Regions from separate parts of the Homo sapiens genome. Here region 1 is linked to region 2. The links come from fine-mapping of genetic effects on gene expression. A gene starts in region 2. The other region holds a variant in brackets. All regions are shown on one strand. Distances are between the middles of the regions. Region 1 has its middle 24 kb from the start of RTP1. Region 2 holds the start of MASP1 (MBL associated serine protease 1).

Evidence for each region. PIP is the estimated chance that this variant, and not a neighbour inherited with it, causes the effect.
Region 1: its variant is the best candidate, but not a certain one, in a credible set for the expression of MASP1 in caudate (GTEx, PIP 0.88).

Annotation. Positions count from the first base shown.
Region 1 is chr3:187,170,902-187,176,285 of GRCh38, reverse strand. No RefSeq gene overlaps it. Among named protein-coding and RNA genes, the nearest start is that of RTP1, 24 kb to the left of the region's middle. RefSeq lists enhancers at 1-391, 392-1,223, 4,942-5,384. The variant T/G (reference allele first, on the strand shown) is at 2,440.
Region 2 is chr3:187,288,626-187,293,998 of GRCh38, reverse strand. MASP1 (MBL associated serine protease 1) reads left to right here and starts at 2,262. Exons shown (of 11, transcript NM_139125.4): 1 at 2,262-2,371. The coding sequence starts at 2,367. It overlaps LOC101929130 (a long non-coding RNA gene), which reads right to left and starts at 2,727. Exons shown (of 2, transcript NR_135551.1): 1 at 2,463-2,727.

The sequences.
Region 1 (5,384 bases), 120 kb after region 2:
TTCTTAGACCTTTTATACCTGTTTTTCTCCTTCTGTTATTCCATTTAGTTTCTCAATTAATCCAAAACCATATTCAGGCCATCACCAATCATTCTATACGACAAATGTTTCTTCTAACATCCCCACAATATCACCCCTTACCACAAGACCTCCCTTCAGCTTAATCTCTCCCACTCTAGGTTCCCACGCCACCCCTAATCCCGCTTGAAGCAGCCCTGACAAACATCGCCCATTCTCTCTCCATATCACCCCCCAAAAATTTTCGCCGCCCCAACACTTCAACACTATTTTGTTTTATTTTTCTTATTCATATAAGAAGGCAGGAATGTCAGTCAGGCCTCTGAGCCCAAGCCAAGCCATCGCATCCCCTGTGACTTGCACTTATATGCCCAGATGGCCTGAAGTAACTGAAGAATCACAAAAGAAGTGAATATGCCCTGCCCCACCTTAACTGATGACATTCCACCACAAAAGAAGTGTAAATGGTCGGTCCTTGCCTTAAGTGATGACATTACCTTGTGAAAGTCCTTTTCCTGGCTCATCCTGGCTCAAAAAGCACCCCCCACTGAGCACCTTGCGACCCCCACTCCTGCCCGCCAGAGAACAAGCCCCCTTTGACTGTAATTTTCCTTTACCTACCCAAATCCTATAAAACGGCCCCACCCTTATCTCGCTTCGCTGACTCTCTTTTCAGACTCAGCCCGCCTGCACCCAGGTGAAATAAACAGCCATGTTGCTCATACAAAGCCTGTTTGGTGGTCTCTTCACACAGATGCGCGTGAAAACTATGTTCAGCTGATTTTTGTATTCTTAGTAGAGACAGGGTTTCACCATGTTGGTCAGGCTGGTTTCGAACTCCTGACCTCAGGTGATCCACCCACCTCGGCCTCCCAAAGTGCTGGGATTACAGGCGTGAGCCACCACACTCAGCCATGCCTAGGCTGTTTTTACATCTCATGCTGGGAGGAAACTGACAGACCCTACTGCTGTTTTCCTCCCACCCCAGACAACTGCTTTGTTCAGTGGTTGTGGCGAGTTAGAAACCGGGGATGGCATGGCCTAGAGAGAGGAATAGGGGGAGGGGAGTGTCAAATCTGCTATTTGACATCGTCATGACCAGCCTTGCCATTTTGTTTCACAGGTCAAAGTGAGTGTTATCGCCCGAAAGTTTGTCATTCGAAGCTCCTCCATGTCTCACTTAGTGAGAATTTTTCCAGACATTGGCAAGTGGTCTGTTGCCATCTTTAATTCTCAATGCTGTGGCAAAATGTGTTTTTACGGCCTGGTGTGGTAGCTCATGCCTGTAATCCTAGCACTTTGGGAGGCCAAGGCAGGTGGATTGCCTAAGCTCAGGAGTTCGAGACCAGCCTGGGCAACATGCTGAAACCCCGTCTCTACTAAAATACAAAAAGTTAGCCAGGCGTGGTGGCATGCACCTGTAATCCCAGCTACTCGGGAGGCTGAGGCAGAAGAATTGCTAGAACCCGGGAGGTGGAGGTTGCAGTGAGTCGAGATCAGGCCACTGCACTCCAGCCTGGGTGACAGAGCGAGACTCCATCTCTTAAAAAAAAAAAAAAATGTGCTTTTACGCATTTCGGTGGGAAGTAGAGATGGAATATCAAGGATGGTTAGAATGATGGTACATTCCCATGTTTTAAAAAGAGACGGTTGGCAGCCCGGAGTCTGGACTGAAATGAGGAGAAACAGTAAAGTGGCTTTTTGAAGGCCATAACTGAGGCAGGAGAATGGCTTGAACCCGGCAGGTGGAGGTTGCAGTGAGCCAAGATCGCGCCACTGCACTCCAGCCAAGGCAACAGAGCAAGACTCTGTCAAAAAAAAAAAACAAAAACTTTCACTTTGGAGTGAGGCAGACAAAGCTGACTCCACCACTTAACTGGGCCTGTAACTTTCAAGGAGTTGGTATCCTCTAACGCCTTATTCCCTCTTTTGGCTGCTGGAGGGAGGCAGGTAATTATTGCTATCTCCCAGGGTTCTTATGAGGATAAAGGAGATAAATATATGGAAATTTTACATTTACTCTTAAAACCTTGAGGTGAAACCACAGCAGTGAGCAGGAAAAGAGGGAGCTGCCCTCAGGGCAAATGCTAATATCAACACAACAATCCAGAGCTGGACTTTGAGCAGAGGGAGAGCAGAATCAACTCAGGTTCCCGGATTATGCCTGACACAAGGAAAGGGATTAAAGGAATTGCAGGTCTGTAGCTGTCCAAGGCTGTTGCAAACACAAGCCCAAATCTTCTCTGGAAGAAAGAATCCTGAATTCAGCAACAAGGTTTTCCACAGACTGAAATAAACTAAATCAAGGATTACAAAACCCTTCTCTCAGGGAATGCATTTCCAGTCAGCTCTCAACGCCATCAGGGACTTGGCCCAGAAGGCTTCTTTCCAGTGAATGAATTCTGTGCACGGCAGGATCTG[T/G]CTTCTCCTCGGGCTTTGATCTGGGGCAACCTGACCTCAGTTTCTCCTTAGAGGGCAGCCATGCTTGCTAACATTTTGATGCCCCGGACTATTCTGTTTAGCTAATGCATTGGCTTTGCTAACAATCAGATTTTACTTTCTGTTGCTATGGGTTTTTTTCTTCTTTTTTAGATATTTTGCCTGTGATCTATATAATTTTATGCCAGAAGACTTGGACTCAAGCATTAAGATGTAAGTGGACATCTGGTGTGACTCAGTCTTGCCTTGTAGGTCTGCTTATAATTAGAAAGAGGCATACCTACATTATAGGGATATGGGTGGGCTTCAGTTAGTACACAGGCTACAGCATTTATATTAATTCATACATAACTTATTTCACACCAACAGCCAACTTAAATCTCAGTATTGTATTATCTGTAAACTCTCAGGTGTTTTCATTATGAAGACTTGATGCCCTATGGAAGTCACAGTCCATATAGATCAGTCTCTATGTGGTGTCATGTTCAAGATACACAGTATAAGAGCCAGAAAAGCAATTATAGAAGAATTTTATTAACTTGCTTTTCCAAAAGAAGATGAGAGTGGATCAGACTCACAAGTTGTAGCAACACTTCTCATATTCCTATGTCTCTTCCCCTCTACTTCTTCCCTTCTGTGTCCCCCAGCACCTTTCGTTTGCTGCCTCCCCCTCTCCACCATGTTGTTCACCTTCAGCCTCCCTCGCCTCCACTTTTCTCACCTCCTATCCCTCCAACTTTCTCCCTGGGTCATTCTCCCTGCCATAAAATCCTTCTTGATCCATTCTTACAAAAGTCTGTAGAGACTGGTCTAGCAATGACAAATGTAGGGAGTGAGGGATGAGAAAAGCATGTGGAAGAGTGGGGAAAGGTCCATCCAGCAATTGCATTCACTTTGGTGGAGTGGGGGGAAAAGGGAAATTTGTGGATAATCCCTGATGAATATTAATTTTTATAACAGAGTCTTATGCCTATAAAAGATAGATATTTATATAATTATAAATGTATGTTACTTAGTGCTTCATATTATTATTATAATAAATATTAAAAGTAATTTATGCCCCAATGTTCTTTTTATAAAAAAGTTTAAAGTAGCTTTCAAAGATGCATACAACATAATAATATGTTCTATTTTTAAAACAGTCAAAAATATCTAACAAAATAATACATGCATTTCCCTTTGACCCAGCAATCCTATGTCTAGAAATTTATGCCTAACATATGTTGACAAAAACAGAAAATGATATACACAAATCGCTATTCAGTACTATGTTGTTTGTAGCAGTCGGAATTGGAAACAACCTAAACTGTACGGCATACCTTACCTATGGTAAGATACAAGAGGAATAAAATATGAAACACCACCCAGTAAAGAACTATGGAGCTAAACAAAAGAATGAGGATAATCTCTATAAACCATTATGGAGTGATATCCAGGATAGCCTCTCAACTAAAAAACAAAAAAAGGAAAAGAAAAAACCAAGGGGCAGAACTGTATATAAAGATTGCTACCTTTCCTCGAAGGATGAAAGATACATATTTGACTATATTAAAAATAAATGGAAAGATAAGTTAAAAACTAAGGAATATTATTGTTCACTGGGGAGGAGGGAACAGGGTAGAGGAGACACAGGTAGAACACAGATATTTCTAAATGTGCTTTGTTGTGTTGTGTTGTTTTGGGTCCATGTTATTTTTTACATAATTATAAAACAAAAAAATTGAATTTTTAAAAATTCTGAAAACTTGGGGAAAAAATTAACCTAACATTATGAAATCTGTGGCTTACTCAATGGTGAATTATTTCAAATGACTTTAAAACATAATAATTTGACTGTTTCCATATATCTCATGGAGGCTGAAGTGTGGGGATGGGGAGTAATTACAGTGTTATTATTTTTATTTTAATAGGGTAAGTAACACATTGTATTAGTGCTTCTATTAATGTTACTGGGAACCAAGATTTTTATGGTAATCAAAAAGAGATTGGAAATACATAAAATCTAAGATGGTAAATAAAAATTCCTATTATCTGAATTTGAATTGGAAATATAAGTATTATATCATAATGAAATTGTATTGCCCATAAAAATTATGAACTTCCTAACTTTGTCTATTACACAGACCTGAAAGAAATAAATCATCAATCCATTAGCAACAAGTACCTCTCAGCACCTGGATCACCAAAAGTGATCAGAACTTTCTGGAAAAATAATTCCTTCAGATATAAGTCAATAAATGTATAAAATGAGCCTGGAATATTTTCTTGTACCAGATTTCAAAAATTCCTATTGTCATGTCAAAAGACAAAAGGCAAATGAAACTAACCTGAAGAAGCTTTCACTGGCCAAAAACAAAATAATTGGATCATCAAAAAGAATAATGGCCACAATTCATTGAAGTACATCAAATATGCTAAAAATCCATAAATTAATAATGATATTTTAAATAAAAAAAACCAACTATTTATTTCAAAAATAGGCAAGGGAAAAATATTACATATTTATCTTGGCTTCCTTATGTAATCTGCATTTTGTGATAACCAAATAATAGTTGAGGGGAAGCTATTCTTTAGAGAAGAATTACAATTAATAAAAGAAAAGGGGCCGAGGCGCAGTGGTTCACACCTGTAATCTCAGCACTTTGGGAGGCCAAGTAGGGAGATCACTTGAGGTCAGGAGTTTGAGACCAGCCTGTCCAATGTGGTGAAACCCCATCTCTACTAAAAATACAAAAAAATCAGCTGGGCCTGGTGGAGCACACTGGTAATCCCAGCTACTCGCGAAGCTGAGGCATGAGAATTACTTGAACCCAGGTGGTGGGGGTTGCAGTGAGCTGAGATTGCGCCACTGAACTCCAGCCTGGGTGACAGAGCAAGACTCTATCTCAAAAAGTAAATAAATAAAAAATAAAAGGGAACAATAGGAT
Region 2 (5,373 bases):
GGAGGCCTAATTGCTCTGTGACACTTTCCAAGGAGAAGCTGATGGCTTTCTCGCCCAAGCTCTTCCCTCTGTACCCAGAACAAATGACTGCAGTTCCCAGTATATGCCCTAAATTAGGAGAGGGCAAACTCCGTGGCAGCATGAATTGAGGGAATGTCTTTACTGGGCAGGGGCCCTCTTCCCAGCACAGTGTGCATTTTGCCAAGCTCTTTCTCCTTCAGTTTTAAAACCCTTGTGTATTCCAAGAGAAATGTCGTCCATGTGTTTCTGATTCATTTACACGTAAATCATTAAAATGTTGTTTTGTGAGAGTTATTTAATGTGTGCGGAGCCTGTGAGTCTTCTTAACGGGAATGTTAAAAGCTTTTTTTCCTGTGCTGACTGAGACAGAACACATTTTGCTAAAACAGTGCCTGAGTTCAAACATATCCTCCCATCTCATATACTTGTACCTGCTTTATCAACCACAGCCTCTTGATAATGCCAAGCTTGGCAAGGCTGGCATTCAAAAGTGTGAAAATTAGAGAAACTGGAGAGAAAATGGAGTAAGAAGTACAGTGAGAGTCAAGCCACTGTTCCCCAGAACGTGCCAAAGGAACGTTATCTGAGGGTAGACAGTGCATGTGTCTGCCGCTTTGGTGAGTGTGGCTGGCAGCCCTCTCTCTGGTACTCCCCTGGACACTTCTACAAGCACAGTCTTATTTAAGCCTCATAGTAACTCCCATTTTCCAAATGAAGACACAGAATCAGATACCTTAAGTATTGTGCCCAAAGTACACAGCTGTCTTGGGTAGAAAGGAAAGATTACAGCTAAACTCTGAGTCTAATCTTCTTTTCAAAATGACTCAGATTGAGTTTCTCTATGAATGCCGTCTGTGTGTGTGCATTTGAAATTCCATATGCATTATAAAATGTTAATGAGTAGCAGTGTAATACAGTGGCTAACACTTCAAATTCTGCCTCTATTACTTTCTAGCTGTGTGAACTTGGGAAAGTTACTTAACCTCTCTGGGCAATTTCCTCTGAAAAATGAGAATATTGCCAGCCATGTATACAACATATAAAGATGACTGAAAAGAATTCATATATTAAGTGCTTAGAGCAGTGCCTGACACGTAGCACTCAATAGCTGTTAGCTTCTAGTGCTAGTGGCAGTGGGGAGTCATAAATAACTGGATGATCTTGGCAAGTGGCATATTCTCTCTGAGCCTTAGTGTCCTCACTTGTAAAATGAGTATAACAGCAGCACTTTCACCAGTTTGCAAAAGTAACTTGAGATGATGTTAATGACTAGTACTGTGTCTAACACAGAAAAGGTGCACAGTCAAACTTAACTTTTACACCCAGATACACCTCTCCCTATTCAGTGTTGGTTGTTGTTGTTGTGGAGGGGGTAATTTTCTTATTATTCAGCTCATCTTAGATCTAGTGTTGATTTCTCCGGAAGCCATGGGTATAGACATATATACAGGCCCAGGTCTTTCTACACCCCTGGGGAGGTGAGATTTCTTGCTGCGATGGGCCCTTTCTGGGCTGGAGTAGAGCCGCACACACTCCGAGCAAGTAAACAGTGCCACAGGTATTGCTCATGGGGAGGAACAACCAGCCAACTTCAGGACTTGGTGCTTCCCCAGTTCCGGGCCCGTGGCTCTGTTCACAGGAAAACCTGTCGTTGTGTGTGACTCTGATCACGAGAAAACCTGTAGTTATTTGGGGCTCTGCTCACAAGGAAACCTGTAGTTATTTGCAGACAGACGCTCTGGGATTTAGACCTTTTTTTTTTCTTCTAGTGTAGGTGCTAGAATTGCCTTCTTAGTTGGTTGTTTCTATTTAATTGCTTTTCTTTCATGGGTGTCCTGAAGAAAAGCAGAAAATTATAGTCATCTGGCAAAAAAGACTAAAGAGAAATTAGACTTTGTCCCCTTTCACTCTCTCTCTCTCTCTCTCTCTACACACACACACACACACACACACACACACACAGAGTGATACAAATACCTGCTTGAGCCCCTCAGTTATTTTCTCTCAAGGGCTGAAGTCAGCCACACAGGATAAAGGAGGGAAGGGAAGGAGCAGATCTTTTCGGTAGGAAGACAGATTTTGTTGTCAGGTTCCTGGGAGTGCAAGAGCAAGTCAAAGGAGAGAGAGAGGAGAGAGGAAAAGCCAGAGGGAGAGAGGGGGAGAGGGGATCTGTTGCAGGCAGGGGAAGGCGTGACCTGAATGGAGAATGCCAGCCAATTCCAGAGACACACAGGGACCTCAGAACAAAGATAAGGCATCACGGACACCACACCGGGCACGAGCTCACAGGCAAGTCAAGCTGGGAGGACCAAGGCCGGGCAGCCGGGAGCACCCAAGGCAGGAAAATGAGGTACGTGCCAGGGGAGGAGAGGGCACGGTTCCCTTTTGGGGACCAGTGTCAAATAGCAGGGAAGGTCTGACCTTGTCACTGACAGACTCACCTGCGTGTCCTGCATGTGGTAGTGAGGGGCTTTCTCATCAATTCTTAGGGCTCTGAGAAGGGAGCTGTGGGTGGGCTGGGTGCCTTCCCCAGGACTCCAGGAGACATAAAACTTGAAACGGGAGACTTCGTGCAAATCCTGCTCCGGACGCTGCTGAAGCTCAGATTTCTCCCACTGCCTGCACAGGGTGCTGCCTGCTGGCGAATGTGACTCTCCTCCTGTTCACCCACAAGGCTGATTTTTCCGTGTTCCTCCTCTGGAAAGAGCATTGCTTTCTCTCTTCCAGCACTTTGTGAGTTAGATATGTGTTTGTGTGTTCATTCCTTCTGACCAGAAAAGAAACCAGCTTCCCATAGCTTGGCTCTGTGGTTTCTTCAACCTTTACAAGTTTGCCAGTTAAACCTCAATTTAGAAAACTAAAAATCTGTCCCCATTTTACAGTTCCCTATAAATTTTCTGCATTTCTCATTGAAATCAGAGGCAGCTGGTGGCATGAATCAGGCTATGAAGTACACCAAATGGCTCTTAAAGAGATATCATACTTAAAAAAAAAAAAAGGATTTTAGAGTTCTGAAATCAAGAACTTCAAATTCTAATTGGTTTTAAACTCTTTAACCTTTCTTATTCCTCATTATACTTGACACTCCTTACCAGACCTTTCATACAAGTTCTATCCTGCAAGTCTGAAAACCCAACCACCCTAGTTATTTTTATTAGTTAAGTGTTAATGCTGTTACACACACACACACACACACACACACACACAATGCTCTGCAGATGTGTAAGTCCCTAAACACATCTTTTACTATTAATTTTCTTTTCACTTGGGAAAGTGTTTTTATTTGTTTCTCTTCTGCAAAGTAACCTAGCAACTTTTCTGGACCTGAGACCAATGAGAGGCTTCAGACTATGTTAACTCTTTGAACTCCGATTACCTGTGGTTCAGAGAGATAACCAGGTCCTTAAAAAGTGAGTGCAATAATTCTGTTCTTCTTAAAGCCATAGTAATTTTAAACCTGCCATTAAACATCATTTTTCTTTCTCCAAAAAAAAGTGATTTATGTCAATCTACATTGAATGATAATCTCATTTATCTGTCAATGATCTGGTCTGAATCCCACCCTACCATTCAGTGCCCCAGCCCATATCAAACTACTTGGCTGAGTAACAATTCTGTATCTTTGCATATGCTCATCCCTCAACCTGGAGCAACCTTCTTCTTTATTTTCCACCTAGAAGACCTGATTGTTCAAGCTGGCACAAATATCTCTTTCTCTCTCCTGACCACCATATTCCAGAGTGAGCATCCCCTCCTTTGTCCTTTGTTCTGTTTCTGTCCCTTGAAGCTGCATCTCTTATTGTCCTTGTAGTATCCCCTTGTTTAAATGTCCACCTCCCCTTACAAGTCTCAGCACTCCTTAAGTTACATGATCTATGTCTTCATCTTTGTATGGCCAGCACCTAGCATAATGTCTATTTCCTACCAGCCATTCAATACCTATTTGTTGAATTGAATTCAATTTTTGAATAGCCAAGCAACTACGAGAAAGGTGCTCTGCTAGAAAAGTCTCCAGCAGGTCTTGTCTCACATGGATACAGTATTTCAGTGTTTGCAGAGCACTTTCAAGAGCACTGTCTCATGGGGGTTTCAGATTCTGGATGAAGTAAGGATTTATGGATAAGTAGTGGGTATAAAAGCAGTTAAGCAACTTGCCCAAACCACACTGATGATCATGAAAAGGTCCAGATTCAAATTTGGGTCTTCGGGCTCCAAGTTCAGGATTTTTTCTACTATATTCCACTAGACTTTCAGCCAAGTGTATTATTCTAAACTGACGGCTCATAATTCTGACTGTACGTCGGAATGATCTGTGCTGCCTTGAAACATGCCAGTGCTCAGGCCTCACCCCAGAGCAATTAAACCAGAACCTCCTGAGGAGGGACTTTGGCATTAATATTTTTAAATTTTTTACGTAAAGCCATGGGTTTTTCAATTATTTTTCACAGGATTAATTGCTTTGGCCAGATGCCTGGGCATGATATGGGCATGGACCCAGCTTCTTCTGTGAGCTCTTTTTATTCCCTTCTTCTGTTGAAGTTAATTCACCATATGGTATTGAGCATGATGTGACATCTCTTGGGGTATCCTTTTCATCGTCTGTCAAATTAGGGTGCTCTGTAAAGGATCCATGCAGTCCCTTCCAACTCTTCAATTCAAAAATGGAGTCTTGGTGTGGAGTGGGTTGAAACAAGGGGCGTGTACGGACAGTGTATGGAAAAGATAGCAAGTGCCGTTCATGCCGCAATCATAGATATATGCAGGCATTTTTACAGAGTCCTGCTAGCCTGTTCCTACGGGGGGCCTCTGAAATCTCAGCTCTATATATTACTTTTGACATTTCTGCAATGTAGCTAAACTTTTTGATTAGCCGGAGGATAGATAGCAGGTGTTGGGAACTATACAGCCGGTGCCTCGTATACAAGAAGCCAAAAACATTCAGAGAGTGTGACGAGGAATGAAAGCTGCCACTTATATTCTTCAATTTACAGCCCCTAACGCAAGCAGGCAAGCATATGCTCAAGCCCATTACATGAAGGGAGATATTTGTTTCATATGTTTGAAACCGTTTTGAGATGCAAACAAAGTAGAAGGGAAAGCTTCCTGGGCCTTCCTCCCACGCTGACCAGTTGCCTACCACACATGGCACCGGGCTTCTGGGCTACACAGGGCTGTCTGCTGCCAGTCCTTGACAGAACCGGCCTCAGGAGGCTCAGTGTCTCCTCGATGTGGTCTGGAAAAAGCAGTCATGGAGGAAGTTGACCTTTCGGCCTTGCATAATTTGGGTGTCGCTATTATAGGGAAGTCCGGTTTAGGAGCCAAAGCTCATTCCTGACTCTTGCTTTTTGGGAA